4 linked regions of the Homo sapiens genome follow. The protein of the gene in region 4 purifies or fractionates together with the protein of the main gene of each other region. This does not show direct contact. Each region holds a gene or a part of one and is shown on either strand. Other genes may lie near its edges.

Evidence for each region. Proteins that work in one complex are often made in the same cells at the same time.
Region 1: the proteins of CREB3L3 (region 4) and NAF1 purify together in Homo sapiens (affinity purification with mass spectrometry; one large-scale study listed by BioGRID and IntAct). This does not show direct contact.
Region 2: the proteins of CREB3L3 (region 4) and KCNN4 purify together in Homo sapiens (affinity purification with mass spectrometry; one large-scale study listed by BioGRID and IntAct). This does not show direct contact.
Region 3: the proteins of CREB3L3 (region 4) and MAPK4 purify together in Homo sapiens (affinity purification with mass spectrometry; one large-scale study listed by BioGRID and IntAct). This does not show direct contact.

What each region holds. Positions count from the first base shown.
Region 1 is NC_000004.12:163,127,955-163,132,390, forward strand, and holds the end of NAF1 (H/ACA ribonucleoprotein complex non-core subunit NAF1), read right to left. Parts: intron 1,395-4,436; coding exon 943-1,394; 3' UTR 715-942; downstream 1-714. UniProt on the Homo sapiens protein: RNA-binding protein required for the maturation of box H/ACA snoRNPs complex and ribosome biogenesis.
Region 2 is NC_000019.10:43,773,538-43,777,973, reverse strand, and holds part of KCNN4 (intermediate conductance calcium-activated potassium channel protein 4), read left to right. Parts: intron 1-1,337; coding exon 1,338-1,433; intron 1,434-3,354; coding exon 3,355-3,782; intron 3,783-4,073; exon of another isoform or gene 4,074-4,074; coding exon of another isoform or gene 4,075-4,171; exon of another isoform or gene 4,172-4,177; coding exon of another isoform or gene 4,178-4,188; intron 4,189-4,436. UniProt on the Homo sapiens protein: Intermediate conductance calcium-activated potassium channel that mediates the voltage-independent transmembrane transfer of potassium across the cell membrane through a constitutive interaction with calmodulin which binds the intracellular calcium allowing its opening.
Region 3 is NC_000018.10:50,717,087-50,721,522, reverse strand, and holds part of MAPK4 (mitogen-activated protein kinase 4), read right to left. Parts: intron 1-4,436. UniProt on the Homo sapiens protein: Atypical MAPK protein. Phosphorylates microtubule-associated protein 2 (MAP2) and MAPKAPK5.
Region 4 is NC_000019.10:4,166,214-4,171,586, reverse strand, and holds part of CREB3L3 (cyclic AMP-responsive element-binding protein 3-like protein 3), read right to left. Parts: intron 3,237-5,373; coding exon 3,130-3,236; intron 1,448-3,129; coding exon 1,379-1,447; intron 497-1,378; coding exon 412-496; intron 205-411; coding exon 108-204; intron 1-107. UniProt on the Homo sapiens protein: Transcription factor that may act during endoplasmic reticulum stress by activating unfolded protein response target genes. Activated in response to cAMP stimulation. In vitro, binds to the cAMP response element (CRE) and box-B element.

The DNA of each region.
Region 1 (4,436 bases), on a different chromosome or scaffold from region 4:
TCTTAGTTAAATTATTTTAACCTCTTTGGAACACTTAGGCTCCTCATTTACTAAATGAAAACTGGAGTATTTCAATGGTCTCTTCTAGTTCTAAAACTCATAATTTCCCTTACATTGACACTTCATAATATAAAGCAGTAGTCATTACTCATTTAATTAAAAACTCTTAATTCAGATATTCAATAACTATTTGTTATTTATGGAACCTAGTCTGCATGTGAGGATCTGGAAAACAAATATGGAAGACAAAATCCCTAAATAGATCTTATTGTGAATAATCTTTGCATCCCTTTTAGGAGGTTAAATAGTAAAGCCTTCTGAACAGTGCCCAAATAAAGGAATTATTTTGCACAGATAATGGAAGCTTGCCTATGCATAATAAATATTTTTTACTTTAGCTATAATCAGAGCTTCTACCAATATATAAGAATTTTCTCCTCTATATCCCTCAACTGCTTTAAAAAGAAAAATTATGGTCATTTAAACTTACTCACAAATTACATTTATAATTAAAATTGATTTCCAAAGTATAAATTTATAAAAATAGTTTAAAGACTCTCAAAAGGACTTCATCTTATATTCAGATTATAGCAAGAAAATCAATGTGCTCCATATATTTTACCCATGATGAAACTTGTCCCATATCCATTACTATATATATATATATATAGTTTAACTGGGTGGGGTTGGGAGGGAGAAGGCATGAATTCAAAATTTTAATTAAATATTACATAATTTAATGTTCTCCCAAGAATTTGAGCTGACATTTTCATATGAATACAATTTCACAAAGGTTACAAATATATATCAACTTACAACAGAAGGAATCATTTAGTATTTTACAGTGTTTTTAAAAATCTAGCTCCATAATCACTCTTGAAAAAAAAAAATCCTTACCACATAATATGAAAAGTCCACATTTCTCTGGAAATGCATAGTCACCTAATAGTAAGGTCCAAAATGAGAATTACTATCTCCAGAAGAGGGTGGAGGAGGCAGTGGTGGAGGGGGAGGGGGTGGGGGTAGGGAGTATGGTAAGTTAAGTAATGGATGAGCAGCCATGTTTGGTGTAGCCCAACCCATGTTTACAGGTGGGGGTGGTGGTGGGGGTGGAGGGCGGAGGGGAAAATTATGCATGTCAAACACTGGAAGAGGAAAGGGGTATTGTGGCATAATGGGATTATTTTGTCTCTGAGAAGGAAATCCTGAAGTCTCCTGAGATACCATATGTTCTGAGTTATAGAAATGCTGAGGTGGAGGCCTGCCATGGCAAGATCGAGGGTATCTGGCCCTGGAAAATCCTCGTGTGAATTCTCTGTTACGATATCCTTTTGCATGCTCTGAAGCAGAGCTATGAGCATTCCAATTCTGATGTACTTCAGTAAAATCTTCACCTTTGAGTGAGGGGAGGGAAAACATAAAAAGGAAAATAAGTTTAATATATCAAAAAGCATTGTTTGAAATTTCAATTATGATTTTTATTATCCAGTATATCTTGTGGCAGTTAAAAAAGTGTAAGACATAAAATGGTAAATTTGAAATGAACTGAAAAGACAAAACTTAATGCCAAAGAAAGAGAACCCAGCAAGTCAGAAAACACTTAGATGATAACCATTCTACTCTAGCCAAACACCACAGAAGAAAATGTGGCACCATCCCTACACACTCTCAAAGGCTGAGTACAGATCCTAGACTTCTATCCTTGACAGGCAGTAATGAGGTACTCCAACCCTTCCACCACAGTAGCATCAGGAACAGGCTGAACAGGGTGCCAGTAACAAGCCTCCCTGCAAACAATGAACATCACATGGGGAACCTGAACTTCCACCTCCACTGGCGGCAACCCAGTGTTCTTCCCTCTTTTACACTGGGGCAATGTCAGAGAAGATGGAGTAGAGTTAGGATTTTTGTCCCCAACCAGTGATAACAAGGCCATCCTCCACTGGTGTCAGTGCATACCATATGGGGAGGAGTGACAAAGTACTCCTGTCCCTACCAGGCATAAGACCTCGTGGGATGTCAGAACTTCTACCCTCATCCAGCAGTAACAAGGCACCCCTTGGCCAAAGGTGTCAACAGAGGCTAAGAGGAATACCTAGACTTCAATCTACCCTGTTCCTTTCGCTGCCAGAGTAGCATTTTTAAAAAGACAAAGAAACAATCACAACAAACCCAGCTAAATCAGAAGATTTACATAAGATCCATGGTCTTGTAATATAATACTCAATATACCCAGGTTGCAATAAAAGAAAATTGCTCATCACAAAAAGAACCAGGAAGACTTCAAATTCAATGAAAAAAATAAATCAAGCAAGGGTGTCACAAAGATGTTAGAATTATGAAAGGTATTAAAGCAGTCATAAAAATGCTTCAACAAGATATTATGAACATTCTAAAAAATTAAAATTACAAAGTTTTAGGAAAAAAAGAAGATATAAAATAAAGAACAAATTGCAATTTTAGAACTGAACATTACAATAACCAAAATTAAAAACTCAATGGAACAATATTGAAGGAGAAGAACAAAGCTGGAGGACGGAAACTACCCAACTTCAAGACGTATTATAAAGTTTAAGTAATCACAGCAGTGTGGTACTGGTGAAAGGACACACAAATAAATCAATGGGACAAAATAGAAGGTACAAAAATAGACCCACATAAACATACAAAAATAGACCCACATAAACATAATAAACGGATATTTAACGAAGGAGCAAAAGCAATACAACAGAGCATAAGTAGTGTTTTCAACAAATGGGGCTGGAACACCTGGACATCCACATGCAAAAAGAATAAATCTAGACAATAACCTTACACCGTTCACAAGAATTAATTCAAAATGGACCACAGACCTCAATGTAAAATGCAGAATTACAAAATTCCTAAAAGATAACATAGAAGAAAATTTAGACAACCTTGGGTTGATAATGACTCTTTTTTTAGAGACGGAGTCTCGCTCTGTAGCCCTGGCTGGAGTGCAGTGGCACGATCTCAGCTCACTGCAACCTCCGCTGCCCGGGTCCCAGCTGACGCAATTCTCCTGCCTCAGCCTCCCAAGTAGGAATGCGCCACCATGCCCAGCTAATTTTTGTATTTTTAGTAGAGATGGGGTTTCACCATGTTGACCAGGCTGGTCTTGAACTCCTGACTTCCTGATCTGCCTGCCTCGGCCTCCCAAAGTGCTGGGATTACAGGCATTGGGCCACTGCGCTCGGCCAATAATGACTTTTTAGATAATGACTTCTTAGATAGGACATCAAAGGCATGACCCATGAAAGAAATAATCAATATGCTGAATTTCATTAAACTTAACAATTTCTGCTCCACGAAAGATACTATCAGGAGAATGAAAGAAAAAAGCTCAGAAGTTCAAGGTTACAGTGAGCTATGATTGTACCACTGCATTCTAGCCTGGGCAACAGAGCAAGAATATCTCAAAAAACAGACAAAAACAAAAACAAAAACAAAAAAACCTCAGCAAGACATTTGTTGATGTAGAGAAGATTCTAAAATTTATACTGAAAGGTAAAGGACCTAGAATACCGATTATAATTTTGAAAAAGAGAAATAAAGTAGGAGTTATCACTCCACGCAATTTTAAGACTAACCTCACATTCTATACAAAATTTAACTCAAAATGAATCACAAGTGTACAATTTAAAACAGAAGACTACAAAACTTTTAGGGAAAAAATAGAAGAAAATCATTAGGATCTAAAGCTAAGCAGGAAGTTCTCAGATTCCATAAACAAAATTGATAAATTAGTTTTCCTCAAAACTAAAAACTTTAGTATTGCAAAAGGCCATCTTAAAAGAAGGAAAAGACTACAGACTAGAACAAATCATGAACGAACCAAATATTTGACAGAAAGCTAGTATCTAAAATATACATTTTTAAATTCTCGTAACTCGACAGTAAAAATCCAGCAATACAATTTAAAAGTTGGCAAAAGATAATGAACTGACATATCACTGAAGATACCGATAGTAAATGAACACATGGAAAGATGTTCAATGCCATTAGCCATTAGGAAAATGCAAATTAAAACCACAATTATATTAGCACTACAAACCTAGCAGAATGGCCAAAATTAAAAACAGTGATAACACCAAATGCTGGAGAAAATGCAAAGAAATTGTCACTCATACATCGCTGATAAAAATGTAAAATGGTATAGCCATGCTGAAGAACAGTATGGTAGTTTCTTAGGAAACTAAACATGTAATGCAACTATTATACAACCAAGCAATTATACTCTTGGGCATTTATTCCAGAAAAATGAAAACCTCTTTTCACAAAAAACCTGTATATAAATATTTATAGCTGCTTTATTCCTAATAACCCCAAAATGGAAACAACCTAGATGTCCTTCAATGGATGAATGGTTAGGTAATCTGGTAAATTCATGCCATGAAATGTTACTCTGTAATGAAGAG
Region 2 (4,436 bases), about 40 Mb from region 4:
ACAGCACTATTGTTCTGATAGGGGGTTGGGGAGCAGGCCCCTGGGGCAGGAAACTGGCCCTCTTCCCCTGCTCAGAGGCGGGATGCTGGCCCAGCCAGGGGAGCTGGCAGCCCTCTTAGGAGAAACAGGTGCAATGCTTTGTAAGGACGCCCAGGTGGTCCCCTCCCCCTGCAAATACCCGCCAGGCAGGGACCAACCCCTCTTAGGAAATCCAACAGTCCCAGTCCCCTCTAAATCCCTCTCTCCAGAATTCTAGATTCCTCCAAGGTTGTGCCACACAAAGAGAGGAAAAAAAAAAAAAGGAACAATTTCTCCGTGGTTTCTGGAGGCCCTGTGCTTCCGGCCAGATCTGCCCTGGGCTTAGAGCCAGAAGAGAGGGGTGGCAGTGGGGAGCTGCAGGGGGGCAGAACCGAGGGGGCTGTCTCAGAGCTGAGGCTGGGTCTCAGGGACTCAGCCCTCCGGATGAGAGCAGAGAAGGGTGTGACTCAGTCTTTGAGGATTGAATGGTAGTTTCTACATTCTTCCAGATCTGGGGTTGGGGTTGATTGAAGTTGGTTTCTAGGACAACACCAGGTGGGTAGGAAGGGAAGGGGAGGGGGCACTCTCTAGAGGCTAGATGTCTTTTTCTAGACACCACACACACACACCCACACACACACACACACACACACACACCTGAAGAACTATTTTTGATGTGAAATGGGACAGGAATAAGAAGGAATGTGAGTTTCAAGGTCCCCCTTCATGGGTATGGGTCTTGGGAGAAGAGCTGAGGAAGAGGGTAGACACCAGCATCTGGACAGGGTTGTCCTGTTGGGGAGAAAGAGAGCATTCCTGGGGACCAGATGATGGTGTTTTTTTGTTTGTTTGTTTGCTTGCTTGCTTGTTTCGAGACGGAGACTCGCTCTGTTGCCCAGGCTGGAGTGCAGTGGCGCGATCTCTCAGCTCACTGCAACTTCCACCTCCTGGGTTCAAGATTCTGGTTCCTCAGCCTCCCAAGTAGCTGGGATTACACACCCAGCTAATTTTTTGTTTTTTTAGTAGAGACTGGGTTTCACCATGTTGGCCAGGGGGTCTCAAACTCCCGACCTTCGGTGATCCACCTGCCTCAGCCTCCCAGAGTGTTGGGATTACAGGTGTGAGCCACCGCACTGGGCCCAGATGATGGTTTTGAGACTTCTCCAGAACCGACACATCAAGAGGGACTGATTTGCAGGGGAAGGAGGCTAGGAAAATTGGGAATCAAAAAAAAAAAATGGTGGTTTTGAAGGAAAGGTGGAGGGCCAGGCGGAGGGAGACCTGGGATCTCACACCGCTTTTTCCGTCCCCCCTGACAGTGGGCGCTCTACCTGTTCCTGGTTAAATGCACGATCAGCATTTCCACCTTCTTACTCCTCTGCCTCATCGTGGCCTTTCATGCCAAAGAGGTCCAGGTAGGGCAGGCCCCGCCCCTAAGCCTTGCTCCCTCCAACCCCCTCAGCGCCCTGTCAGCTCACACTTTCCACCCTCCTCCTCCTCCTGATCTGAGTAATGAAGTTCTTCTGCCCTAGGTGCTGCGTCCACACCCTCACCTACCCAGATGGGATGAACCATGAGCAGACAGGCAGAGCCTCCCCCACCAGCTCCGCCTTCCCCTGTAGTCCCCAGCCCCCCCTTGCACACTCACGGATGCTGAGAGTGCCCTTGCAGCCCTGCTTCCGCCCCCAGGCCTCTGTCCACTCTGCTCCCAGGCACTCAGCTTCCCAGATCTCTGTGCTCCGACATGGCATCCCCAATCCAGTCCTCAAGCAACCTAAGGTCCTAGGGCTGCCCACTCCTTTTTTTTTTTTTTTTTTTTTTTTTTTTTGAGACAAGGTCTTGCTCTGTTGCCCAGGCTAGAGTGGAGTGGCACGATCTCTGCTCACTGCAACCTCCACCTCCTGGGTTCAAACAATTCTCATGCCTCAGCCTCCCAAGTAGCTGTGACTACAGGCAGATGCCACCACGCCCAGCTAATTTTTTTGTATTTTAGTAGAAACGGGGTTTCACTATGTTGTCCAGGCTGGTCTCCAACTACTGAGCTCAAGCAGTCTGCCCACCTTGTCCTCCCAAAGTGCTAGGATTACGGGCTTGAGCCACTGCACCTGGTCCGGTCCCAGGGGTGCCCACTCCTAATCACCCTATCTCTGTGCCAATAACCTCCCTCTTGCCCCAGACCCAGGAGCTCTCCCCATCCATACCCCACCTTGGGTCTCACCCAGACACATCCCATCCCCTATTGTCCCATTGCCCCAGATCCTGTTGCTCCATTCCCTTTCCCCTCTTCCCCCTCTCCTATCATAACTTTGCATGTAAAATGGGGATTATTGGCCATGTGTGGCAATTCTATGAGCAGTGCCTGGCACATAAGAGGTGCTCAGTAAACAGTGCACATTATCATCTTATCATAGAGTAGCTAAGTAGCCTGTAGCCCAGTGCGCCATTGCCCATGGAAGGGACCTGGGCCTCAGCTTCCACATCTATAAAATGGGGGCAATAATAATATCAATCTCACTGGGTTGTGGGCATTTACTAAGTCACAATATGTAAACGGGATAGAGCAGTACCTGGCGTATCCACGGTGCCCAGTACATGCTGATTTTGTTATTGTTATTGTTTTGTTTATTTTGAGATGGAGTCTCGCTCTGTCACCCAGGCTAGAGTGCAGTGGCATGACCTCAGCTCACTGCAACCTCTGCCTCCTGGGTTCAAGTGATTCTCCTACCTCAGACTCCCCAGAAGCTGGGACTATAGGTGTGCGCCACCATGCCCGGCTTATTTTTGTATTTTTCAGTAGAGATGGAGTTTCACCATGTTGGCCAGGCTTGTCTCAAACTCTTGACCTCAAGTGATCCACCCACCGCAGCCTCCCAAAGTGCTGGGATTACAGGCGTAAGCCATCGCGCCCGGCCCATGGCTTTGTTATTGCTGATATTATTATTACAGTTATTACGCGTGTCAACCGAAAGGGGAGTAGGAGCGAGCTCCAGGCATGTGGAATGCAAGCTCTAGGGAGGCAGGGGGGTCTGTTGGGTTCACTGTGTATCCTTAGCACATAGAACAATGTCAGGCACACAGTCGGCGCTCAGTCAGTGTTCAAAGGCTGGAAGTGGGCTGAAACTAGTGGGGTGGGTGGTGGGGAAGGAGGAAAAAGTGGAAAGATGTCTTCCTCAAGTCCTGTCCCGCTCCCTCCCTATCCCTCTCCCGCCCTGCACTCCCTCCCTCCTGGCCAGGCGGCACACCCCACTTATCTCAGGGCGCAGGCAGGCGCGGGCCGCCGCCTGACCTGCGCCTGACCTGCTCCTGACCCCTCCCTTCTTGGCCCCCTACCGGCAGCTGTTCATGACCGACAACGGGCTGCGGGACTGGCGCGTGGCGCTGACCGGGCGGCAGGCGGCGCAGATCGTGCTGGAGCTGGTGGTGTGTGGGCTGCACCCGGCGCCCGTGCGGGGCCCGCCGTGCGTGCAGGATTTAGGGGCGCCGCTGACCTCCCCGCAGCCCTGGCCGGGATTCCTGGGCCAAGGGGAAGCGCTGCTGTCCCTGGCCATGCTGCTGCGTCTCTACCTGGTGCCCCGCGCCGTGCTCCTGCGCAGCGGCGTCCTGCTCAACGCTTCCTACCGCAGCATCGGCGCTCTCAATCAAGTCCGCTTCCGCCACTGGTTCGTGGCCAAGCTTTACATGAACACGCACCCTGGCCGCCTGCTGCTCGGCCTCACGCTTGGCCTCTGGCTGACCACCGCCTGGGTGCTGTCCGTGGCCGAGAGGTGAGGGTGATGGAGGCATAAATGCGCAGGGGGGAACCCCGGACAGCCACGGCGGCCGTCCTGTGCCGCGGTGCAGGTTGAGGCCCCCTAGGACCAAGCAGTGGAGAAAGTTCACACTTTGACCCCTTCTCCTCTTGCTGGCTGAAATTTGCCCACACTCCCATCAACTGGGGTGAGAGGAACCAACAGACAAGCCCCCAGCCAATCCTCCACCTGCAGCCTTCAGTCTCCCCAAACGCACACACAGACCCTAGAAAGCCCCTCCCTTCCGGCTGCCTGACCTCTGCCTCAGGTTTACAGGCCATCTGTTCGGTCTCCGAACCTATCTCTGGGACCTGCCTAAAGGGTTGCCTCTGCCTTGGAGGAAGGAGACATATTTTCCCAATTAGCACGGAATGCACTGTAGGTAGGTGCTTTTTGTGATCCTAGGAAGGGGATGATTTGGAACTGCTCTGGAAAATAATTCCAAGCAGGGAATTGGAACTAGATCCTGGTTGCCAGCTAGATACTGTGTAACCCGATGCCGCGCCTCAATTTCTATCCCTTTCAGAGAAAAACGAGGTTGGGAGTGATCTCAGCCAGTGGTCCTCAAAGTGTGATTTCAAGACCAGCAGCATCACCTGGGAACTTGCAAATGAAAACTCTCAGGTCCCT
Region 3 (4,436 bases), on a different chromosome or scaffold from region 4:
GGTTTCTAATTAAGAGGGTTCCATCTAGGAAACTTTCAAGAGAAAAACAAATCAGGAATAACAAATTGGGTTTGGGATGTATCTTGAGCACATGGCCTCTGTGATCCTTGGGAGAAGGAAGGCAGGCCAGGCTATGCCAGGTTTGCAGGGGCACTTTGGTGGGACAGGATGGACTCAAACATTCATTTATTCCCTCATTCCATAAATAGTTATTTATCGAGCACCTTCTCCATGCCAGGCATCACGCTGACTGCTGGGAATCGGTGAGGCATAGTTTTCATTCATAAGAAGCTTCAGTCTTTGTCTCAGAAACTCAACTCACCTCCCACACCCAGACAACCACTGGCCACCGTATGGCATTTCTGGCTCTGGACAGATGGGTCTCCTTGCTGTCCTTCTCTGACCTCCAGGCTGTTCTTCTGTACTTCCATTTTCTCTTTTTTGATTGAGTTGCCTTTCCACTTAGCTGTACTAGGTTAAAACTTCAGCCATACCTCTCCTTCCTCAAGAAGTCTTCCCTGCCCATCCAGCTGCACAGAGGGCCCTCCCCTTGCCATGAATTCCCATGGGATTCCAGTCTTCCAGTCATCCAGCCTAGGATGAGGGCTCTCCCAGGTGCCCCCACAGTTCCCTGTGTGGCCCTAAGCACATGTGAATACTGACCGAAGAAGTGCCTGCAGCCTCAGGCTCTCTCCTGAAGAGGTCCTTTTGGCCTCTCCCTGCAGTGGACTCATTGGGTCAGTTCAGGGCTCTGGAAGCCCCCTGTGGGGTCCTCTCTCCAAATGTGTACTCCACACCACCCACCAGGGGACCATGAGGTCAATGGGTGATCAAGCTGCAGACAGAGATGGTGGGACCTTGCTCCCAAGCCCCTGACCCCTCTCCTGTGTGACACACAAACTAGTAATACACAACCTTCTGCTTGGAGTAGCTTCTTCAACCACAGCGGGGGTGGGGGCAGAGAATGAGCCTCTTTCACTTGTCTGCTCCTGCCCGAGATCAATGGTGTCATATGGGAGGCAGCCAGTGGGGCCTCCCTGGGAATCCATGGCCTGGGGCGGAAAGCAAGAGCTTTGGTGGCAGACAGCCCTGGAGGCAGACCTAGCTCCCCCACCCCTTGTGGAATGAGGATGATTATTTATACTTGGAATGAGTATTATAAGGAGTCAAGTGTGTTGGCAGATGAAGGCTCCGGGAGAAATACCTTGCTTGTAGCAGATGTTTAATAACTCTTGACTTCCTTTGCTTCTAGGAGTGGGGAAGAGTGGCTTTGAGAGAAGCTGATGGAATAATTCCACCTTGGGGATTTATGTCCTAATCATCCGTGAGTGATTCTTTGTGACAGACGTCACTTGGGGGAGGCATCTTAACACTGAGTCTACTAAGCCACCACTGAAAATGGGAGAAGGTGTGAAGCATGGAGGATACTATGGTCAATGTCCCTTTCCTACTGAAAGAAGGTCCTTTCCATGTCACACCAGCTGTTGCCTTCCCTGCCTCTCTTGCAATAAGGGGAGGCCATGTGATTCAATCAAACAGGGACAGGAATCTCCTGGAAGGACTTCCGGGGAAGGTGTTCCTCCCTGGTAAGAGAGAAATGTGAGGAGAGCTGTTTGGCTGCCCTGGCTGACCCCTCCCTACCTTTCTTCGTTGGACACTTCTGCATGAGAACCTGAAAGCGATTGCGACCATCTCGTGACCACAGACAGTGAGCCTGAAGATGAGAGGCCAATAGACTGTGGATTATACAGTCTCGTCTGGGCTCTCAGTGAGTCACCTGCCTGCTGTGGTATGGAGAAGCCCAGCTCTTCTCCGTCTGGCCTGAAGGTTGTCAGCCTGTTGGAAGGGCAGCTGGAGCACAGCCCTGTGAGCTGAGGGTTCAAGGCTGGGAGAATGGAGGCAGCCAGGCACCTATGACCCAGATCGTGGGGGCAGGGCCAGAGATGTTGAGCCATCCAGGGTTTAGTGGCTATGGCTAGGGTGGGAAGAGTCTTTGAGTCAGAGTCCAGGGCGAGACCTCCCTCCCACCTGTTCCTCCTTTCTCCCCTGCCTTGAATTGGCTGGAAAATACGGAACTGGGAGGTCTGTGCAATTTCAGTTGGAAAAATAAGATAGCAGGATGGCTCACCCTGGGCACAGATAGGTTCACTGTGTATTTTTTTTTGTTTTGTTTTTAACCCTTTTGTGTCCCCTGCTGGACCATCAGACCTTTGAGGACAGAGACTATGTCTTACTCAGACTTGTATCCCCAGCACGTGGTCAAGGATCCACCCAAAGCACAAAATCCACCAGAGGGAAAACTGTAGGGGCTCCTGAGAGTCCAGGGGGCAAATGAAGACGTTTGTACTCAGGGCCTAAATGTTTGGACATAAGCCCTGACTTCAGCTTCATCTGACTTTCCTGCCATTGTTTTTATTTTACCTTTTTTTTTTTTTTTTTGAGGTGGAGTCTTGCTCTGTCGCCCAGGCTGGAGTGCAGTGGCACGATCTCGGCTCACTGGAACCTCCACCGTCCTGGTTCAAGCAATTCCCCTGTCTTAGCCTCCCAAGTAGCTGGGATTACAGGTGCATGCCACCACGCCCAGCTAATTTTTTTGTATTTTTAGTAGAGACGGGGTTCCACCATGTTGGCCAGACTGGTCTGGAGCTCCTGACCTCAGGCAATCCGCCCACCTCGGCCTCCCAAAGTGCTGGGATTACAGACATGAACCACCATGCCCAACCTATTTTACCTTTTCTTGTTACTTAATGTTACATTAACATATAATTAATATTAACATATCATATTAATATATGTTTTATATATAGCATGTATTTTAAATACTTACTGGAAGAAGTTAGCATCATGAATGAAAGAGTGACTAGCCCAGCATAGCACTGAATAATTCCCTCATTGCTGTGATTGAGAGATTACATTTTCTGGGTCTCTCATTACTCCTTATTAGATAAATCTGCTCCTATGGTGCCTAAGATTTAACTGTGCCCAATATAAATATTTTCTTGGCAGGCTGGGTGCAGTGGCTCATGCCTGTAATCCCAGCACTTTGGGAGGCTGAGGCAGGTGGATCATTTGAGGTCAGGAGTTTGAGACCAGCCTGGCCAACATGGCAAAACTCCGTCTCTACTATAAATACAAAATTAGCTGGGTGTGGTGGCACATGCCTGTAATCCCAGCTACTCGGGAGGCTGAGACATGAGAATCGCTTGAAATGGGGGGTGGAGGTTGCAGTGAGCCAAGATCATGCCGTTGCACTCCAGCCTGGGGGACAGCACGAGACTGTCTCAAAAACAAAACACAATAAAGACTTTCTTAGCTATTCAGACATGGCTTTCTCTTAATGTCCTGCTGGTGTTCCCTCAGAAAGGCCACTGTTAGCCATTTCTTCTTCTCTGGGCTCATTTTCCCACCCTGCATTATTTGAAACCAAATCACCTGTTAAAAAAGAGGTGGGCTGTCCTGGGCCCCTTCTAGGGCTGGCATCTAAAATTCTGTCTCAAGACCATAAGTTCCCTGGAGAGGCCCTTGTCTGACTTTCTCCCCCTGCCTCCTCACTGTCCCTTTGTCCCACAGCAATCCCTCTCCCCATCCTTAGCACTATGTTCTGTGCACACAGCAGATGAGCAGCTGTGAGAGCCAGGGGCTTTGACAGGTGAGTGGGCAGCTCCTTTTCACCTGTGGGCTTAGGTGGTCTGCAGTGCCCATGAGCTAATTATTACACCAGCTGCCCATATGTGGTCACTCTACAGTGAACAAGAACAACAGGCCAGCAACTGAGATTGTCGGCTCCCCGTGGGGCCACAGGGAATCTTGATTAGCCCTGCCACTTGCAGGCTCAGGTTTGTAGACAGAGATTTCAGGGTGGAGGGAGCCCACATGGATGCTAAGGACACACCTTTGCTCTTAGGGGATACTAGAAGGGCCACTGCTGTCTTATATTTTGTGGGATTCAGGGGCTTTAGTGGGGGGAATCTTACTAGGTCTTGGGGTTCTGAAAGGGGGCTGGGGTAAGGCTATCCTACTCCCTCACTCTCCCCCTCCCTTCCCAACATGGAAGTGTGGGGTAGCCCCAGGAGCCTAGGCCTACCAATGCAGGCCATGAGTGCTGGCCATGCCTCCTGTAAGCTGATTGCCAAGAGAAAACACGCTCCCCCTGGGCCACACTGCAGTCATGATCAAGCAAGGAGGTGGGTGGGTACTTCTCAGGCCTTCCAGCTTTCGTGCCCTTTTCCATTCCCTGGACACTCAGCTCCCCAGCGTCTGCCACTCTGATACTCGCTTCAGATCTCTCCTCCCCTGAGCAGTTCTGGGTGATGACACAAAGTCCAGGGTGGATGTGGGGAGGACAGGCTGACAACAAGGGCAGTGAGTGTCCCAGGAACTGAGGATGTGGGGCTCTGTGTCAGGATAGTAGATAAGTGAGTCACATCAGCCTCACA
Region 4 (5,373 bases):
CCAGCCTCAGGGAACAAGGGCACAGGGGTCTTCTCCCCCTCCCCCAGAGGCCCAGGACGGGGACTTGGGGAGACCAGACAAGGGTTTCAAAGGTGGGGATCCCCTACCTCGTACAGGCGCAAAGTCCCCAGGGCTCTCGGTTTTGTTGGGGCCAAAAGGGCTGATGGAGGGGAGGATGATGAGGGCAAAGGACAGCAACAGGACCTGGTGGAGACAGCGGCAGAGTCACCCCCTCCCTCCCCTCCCCTGCAAGCATCTCCATCCCACAGGCAGGGAAACTGAGGCCCCAAAGACCAGACTGGATCATACTTGAGCTGGGGCACAAGGAGAGCTTGGACTCATTGTCACCTCCCTATGGGCCCCTCTACAGAAGCCTAGGTCCCCGGCTTGCCTGGGGGCACCAGGACTCACTGCGACACAGGTGCCTGTCTGGGCTGACTTGCTGGTGGACTGCACCACAATGGCCTGGAGTTTCTTCAGTTGCTCCAAGAGGGACCTTAGAGAGACAGGCAGGCCTCCGCTGAGCCCTAAAGGGCCTCGGTTCTGCTTCTCGTCCATTTCCGGGGTCCCCCAGCCCCGCTAAAGTCCAAATTCCATCCATTCTTCAAGGGCCTCTGGCTCTTTATTATTTATTTTATTTATTTATTTATTTGTTTATTTATTTATTTATTTATTTTGAGACAGAGTCTTGCTCCATCGCCCAGGCTGGAGTGAGTGGTGGGATGGCAGCTCACTGCAAGCTCCGCCTCCCAGGTTCACACCATTCTCCTGCCTCAGCCTCCCGAGTAGCTGGGACTACAGGCGCCCACCACCACACCCAGCTAATTTTTTTTGTATTTTTAGTAGAGACGGGGTTTCACCGTGTTAGCCAGGATGGTCTTGATCTCCCGACCTTGTGATCCGCCCACCTCAGCCTCCCAAAGTGCTGGGATTACAGGCGTGAGCCACCACACCAGGCCTTATTTATTTATTTTTGAGACAGAGCCTTGCTCTGTCACCCAGGCTGGAGTGCAGTGGTGCGATCTCGGCTCACGGCAACCTCCGCCTCCCGAGTTCAAGCAATTCTCCTGCCTCAGCCTCTCGAGTAGCTGGGACTGCAGGTGCCCGCCACCACGCCTGGCTAATTTTTTTGTATTTTTAGTAGAGACGGGGTTTCACCATGTTGGCCAGGCTGGTTTTGAACTCCTGACCTCAGGTGATCCACCCGCCTCGGCCTCCCAAAGTGCTGAGATTACAGGCGTGAGCCACTGCACGCGGCCCATAGGTAAAACTCTTATTCCCTATGTCATTCTGCCATCACATGGGCTCTCTGCTCTTCCTGCAAAGGGACTCTGGGGCTGCTTCCCCTGTCCTCTGCCCCAGCTGGACCCAGACTCACAGGTTTTGCTTCTCGAGATGCAAGACTTTCCTCTGTAACTCCTGATTCTGAGCAGTGCAAGCTGACATCCTGAAAGGAGGAAGACGCATCGACATTCAGCATATGCCAGTCACCAGCTGGCCCCACTGACATCTCCCCCAGAGGCCTCACGTTACAAGCCAAGAGAACCCAAGGCCAGAGAGGGGAAGTCATTCATCCAAGGTTACTCGGCAGGTCAGACAGGGCTGGGATTTGAACCCACATCTGCCTGGTTCCTAGGTCCCATTTCTGCATTAATATGGAGGGGGCTTCATTCAAAGCTGAGCCCCCTGGATGGGTGTGGTGGTTCACACCTGTAATCCCAGCACTTTGGGAGGCCGTGGTGGGCGGATCACCTGAGGTCAGGAGTTCAAGACCAGCCTGGCCAACATGGTGAAACCCTGCCTGTACTAAAAATGCAAAATTAGCCAGGTGTGGTGGTGGGCGCCTATAATTCCAGCTACTTGGGAACTTGGGAGGCTAAGGCAGGAGAATCGATTGAACCCGGGAAGTGGAGGTTGCAGTGAGTCAAGATCGCACCATTGCACTCCAGCCTGGGCAACAAGAATGAAACTCTGTGTCAAAAAAAAAAAAAAAAAAAAAAAAGCTGAGCCTCCTAGATTCAGGCAGTGATGTTTCCAGAAGATGAAATATCAGGACAACCAGGCATCCTGGGAGACTCAAGTTTCTTTTTTTGTTTGTTTGTTTTTTGAGATGGAGTCTCGCTCTGTCGCCCAGGCTGGAATGCAGTGGCACAATCTCGACTCACTGCAAGCTCTGCCTTCTGGGTTCACGCCATTCTCCTGCCTCAGCCTCCCGAGTAGCTGGGACTACAGGCACCCGCCACCAAGCCCAGTTAATTTTTTTGGATTTTTTGTAAAGACAGAGTTTCACCGTGGTCTCGATCTCCTGAACTCGTGATCCGCCTGCCTCAGCCTCCCAAAGTGCTGGGATTACAAGTGTGAGCCACGGCGCCCGGCCGAGATTCAAGTTTCATCTCTCCCTCTCCCCATGACCTTGGGCCACTCCACTCTCTGATCTCAGCTTTTGTGTCTGTAAAATGGGATACAATTACCCAGGACATAGGGTGGTGGGGGGAATGACCCTGGATAAAGATGATCAGGAGCTTAGCAGATTGCATTTAAGAAAGGGGAGAGACCAGGCGCAGTGGCTCACGCCTGTAATCCCAGCACTTTGGGAGGCTGAGGCGGCCAGATCACCTGAGGTCAGGAGTTTGAGACTAGCCTGGGCAACACAGTGAAACCCCATCTCTACCAAAAATACAAAGAAATTAGCTGGGCGTGGTGGCCATGCACCTGTAATCCCAGCTTCTGGAGAGGCTGAGGCAGGAGAATCGCTTGAACCCGGGAGGTGGAGGTTGCAGTGAGCCAAGATCGCACCACTGCACTCCAGCCTGGGTGATAGAAGGAGACCCTTCCACACACACAAAAAGGAAGTGTCTATCTTCAGGCAGAGGGTCAGAATAGGATGGGTCACACTTTGTCCTTTTTCCGCACACCTTCTAGGGGGCAAAGGGTCCCCCAAACCCTTGTCCTACACCATCACTAGGCATCTTTCCATCCCTGCAATCAGTAAGAAGCATGATCTCTCCCAGAGAGGAGAATCACCTCCAATTTTGTCAGACTCTAAGCTGTGTGGCCTTAGCCACATCTCCTTCTCTCTGGGCCTCAGTTTCCTCCACGAGTGTAGAGTCTGGGTCCAGCACTACCCACCGAGTCTCCAGGCCATCGATATATTCCTTCTTCTTCTTCCTGCTTTCTTGCGCCGACTGCTTGTTCCGGATTTTCCGGCGGATTTTTTTCAGCACTCGCTCCTCGTACTGCCAAGTGAAATGGGGAGGAGGGTTTCAGGCCAGAAAGTCCCCACTTGGAGTCCGGGGGCAGTAGCTCTCGCCTGTAATCCCAGCACTTTGGGAGGCCGAGGCAGGCGTATCACCTGAGGTCAGGAGTTCGAGACCAGCCTGGCCAACATGGTGAAACACCGTCTCTACTAAAAATACAAAAATTAGCCAGGCATGGTGGCGGGTGCCTGTAATCCCAGCTACTCGGGAGGCTGAGGCAGGAGAATGGCATGAACCCGGGAGGCGGAGGTTGCAGTGAGCCAAGATCGTGCCATTGCAATCCAGCCTGGGCAACAAGAGCGAAACTCCATCTCAATAAATAAATAGATAAATAAATAAATAAATAAATAAATAAAATAATTAAAATTAAAAAATTAAAGTCTTCACTTTGGGGATGGTGCGACAGTCCCCACTGTCCTGACCCCACTTCACCTAACCTCGACCCCACAACTTCACCCCATCCTCTTTGCATACAAGACATCCCGGAGCCAAGGACCCAGAGGCAGATTCCTAATGACTTGAAGCTACCCTTTGCCCAAACCCTCACAGAGTCTCTGGGAGGTGCCTGGGTTCTGAGGGTCTTTTCCCAGCTCCCAATACTGTAAAATGGGCAACTGCCCACCAGACTTTGGGCATGGGTACCACTCCACCACCTTGTGGCCATCCCTGGAAACATCACCTTTCCCTGGCGACAGCAAGTGTTTTAAGACTAATTAATAATTTTTTTCTTCTTTCTTACGTTTCTTTCTTTTCTTTCCTTTCTTTTCCCCTCCCTCCCTCCCTCCCTCCCTTCCTTCCTTTCTCCCTTTCTCTCTTTCTCTCTTTCTCTTTCTCTTTCTCTCTTTCTTTCCTTTTCTTCCTTTCTTTCCTTCTTTTCTTCCTTTCTTTCTTTCCTTTCTTTCTTTCTTTTCTTTCTTTTCCTTTCTTTCTTTCTTTCTTTTCTTTCCTTCCTTTTCTCTCTCTCTCTCTCTCTCTCTTTCTTTCTTTCTTTCTTGTTTCGCTCTTGTCACCCAGGCTGGAGTGCAGTGGCAAGATCTCAGCTCACTGCAACCTCCACCCCCAGGGTTCAAGTGATTCTCCCACCCCAGCTTCCCAAGTAGCTGGGATTACAGGTGCACAACACCATGCCTGGCTAATTTTTGTATTTTTAGTAGAGACAGGGTTTCACCATGTTGGCCAGGCTGGTCTCAAACTCCTGACCTCAGGTGATCCGCCCATCTTTGCCTCCCAAAGAGCTGGGATTACAGGCATGAGACACCACACCCGGCCAATAAGTGTCTTCAAATGGGAATGTCAGGCTGGGCGCGGTGGTTCACAGTGCTGTAATCCCAGCACTTTGGGAGGCCAAGGCAAGAGGATCGCATAAGTCCAGGAGTTCAAGACTAGACTGGGCAACATTTAGTAAAGACCCTGTCTCTACTAAAACAAAACAACAACCACAAAATCAGCTGGGTGTGGTGGTGCATGCCTATAGTCCCAGCTACTTGGGAGGCTGAGGCAGGAGGATCCCTTGAGACCAGGAGTTCAAGGTTGCAGTTAGCTGCTACCTGCAGATTGTACCACTGCACTCCAGCCTGAGCGACAAAGTGAGATCCTATCTCAAAACAAACAACAACAACAATAGAAACAGATGGGGCCAGGCACGGTGGCTCACACCTGTAATCTTAACACTTTGGGAGGCCAAGGTCAGAGGACTGCTTGAGGCCAGGAGTTTGAGACCAGCCTGGGCAACATAGCAAGACCCTGTCTCTAAGGAAAAAAAAAAATGCTGGGCGCAGTGGCTCACACCTGTAATCCCAACACTTTGGGAGGCTGAGCTGGGCAGATCACAAGGTCAAGAGATCGAGACCATCCTGGCCAACATGGTGAAACTCTGTCTCTACTCAAAAAAAAAAAAAAAAAAAAAAATTAGCCAGGCGTGGTGGCGCGTGCCTGTAATCCCAGCTACTTAGGAGGCTGAGGCAGGAGAATCACTTGAACCTGGGAAGCGGAGGTTGCAGTGAGCCGAGATCGCGCCACTGCACTCCAGCCTGGGCAACAAAAGCGAAACTCCGTCTCAGGAAAAAAAAAAAAATTAGCTAGGCATAATGGCATACACCTGTAGTCCCAGCTGCTA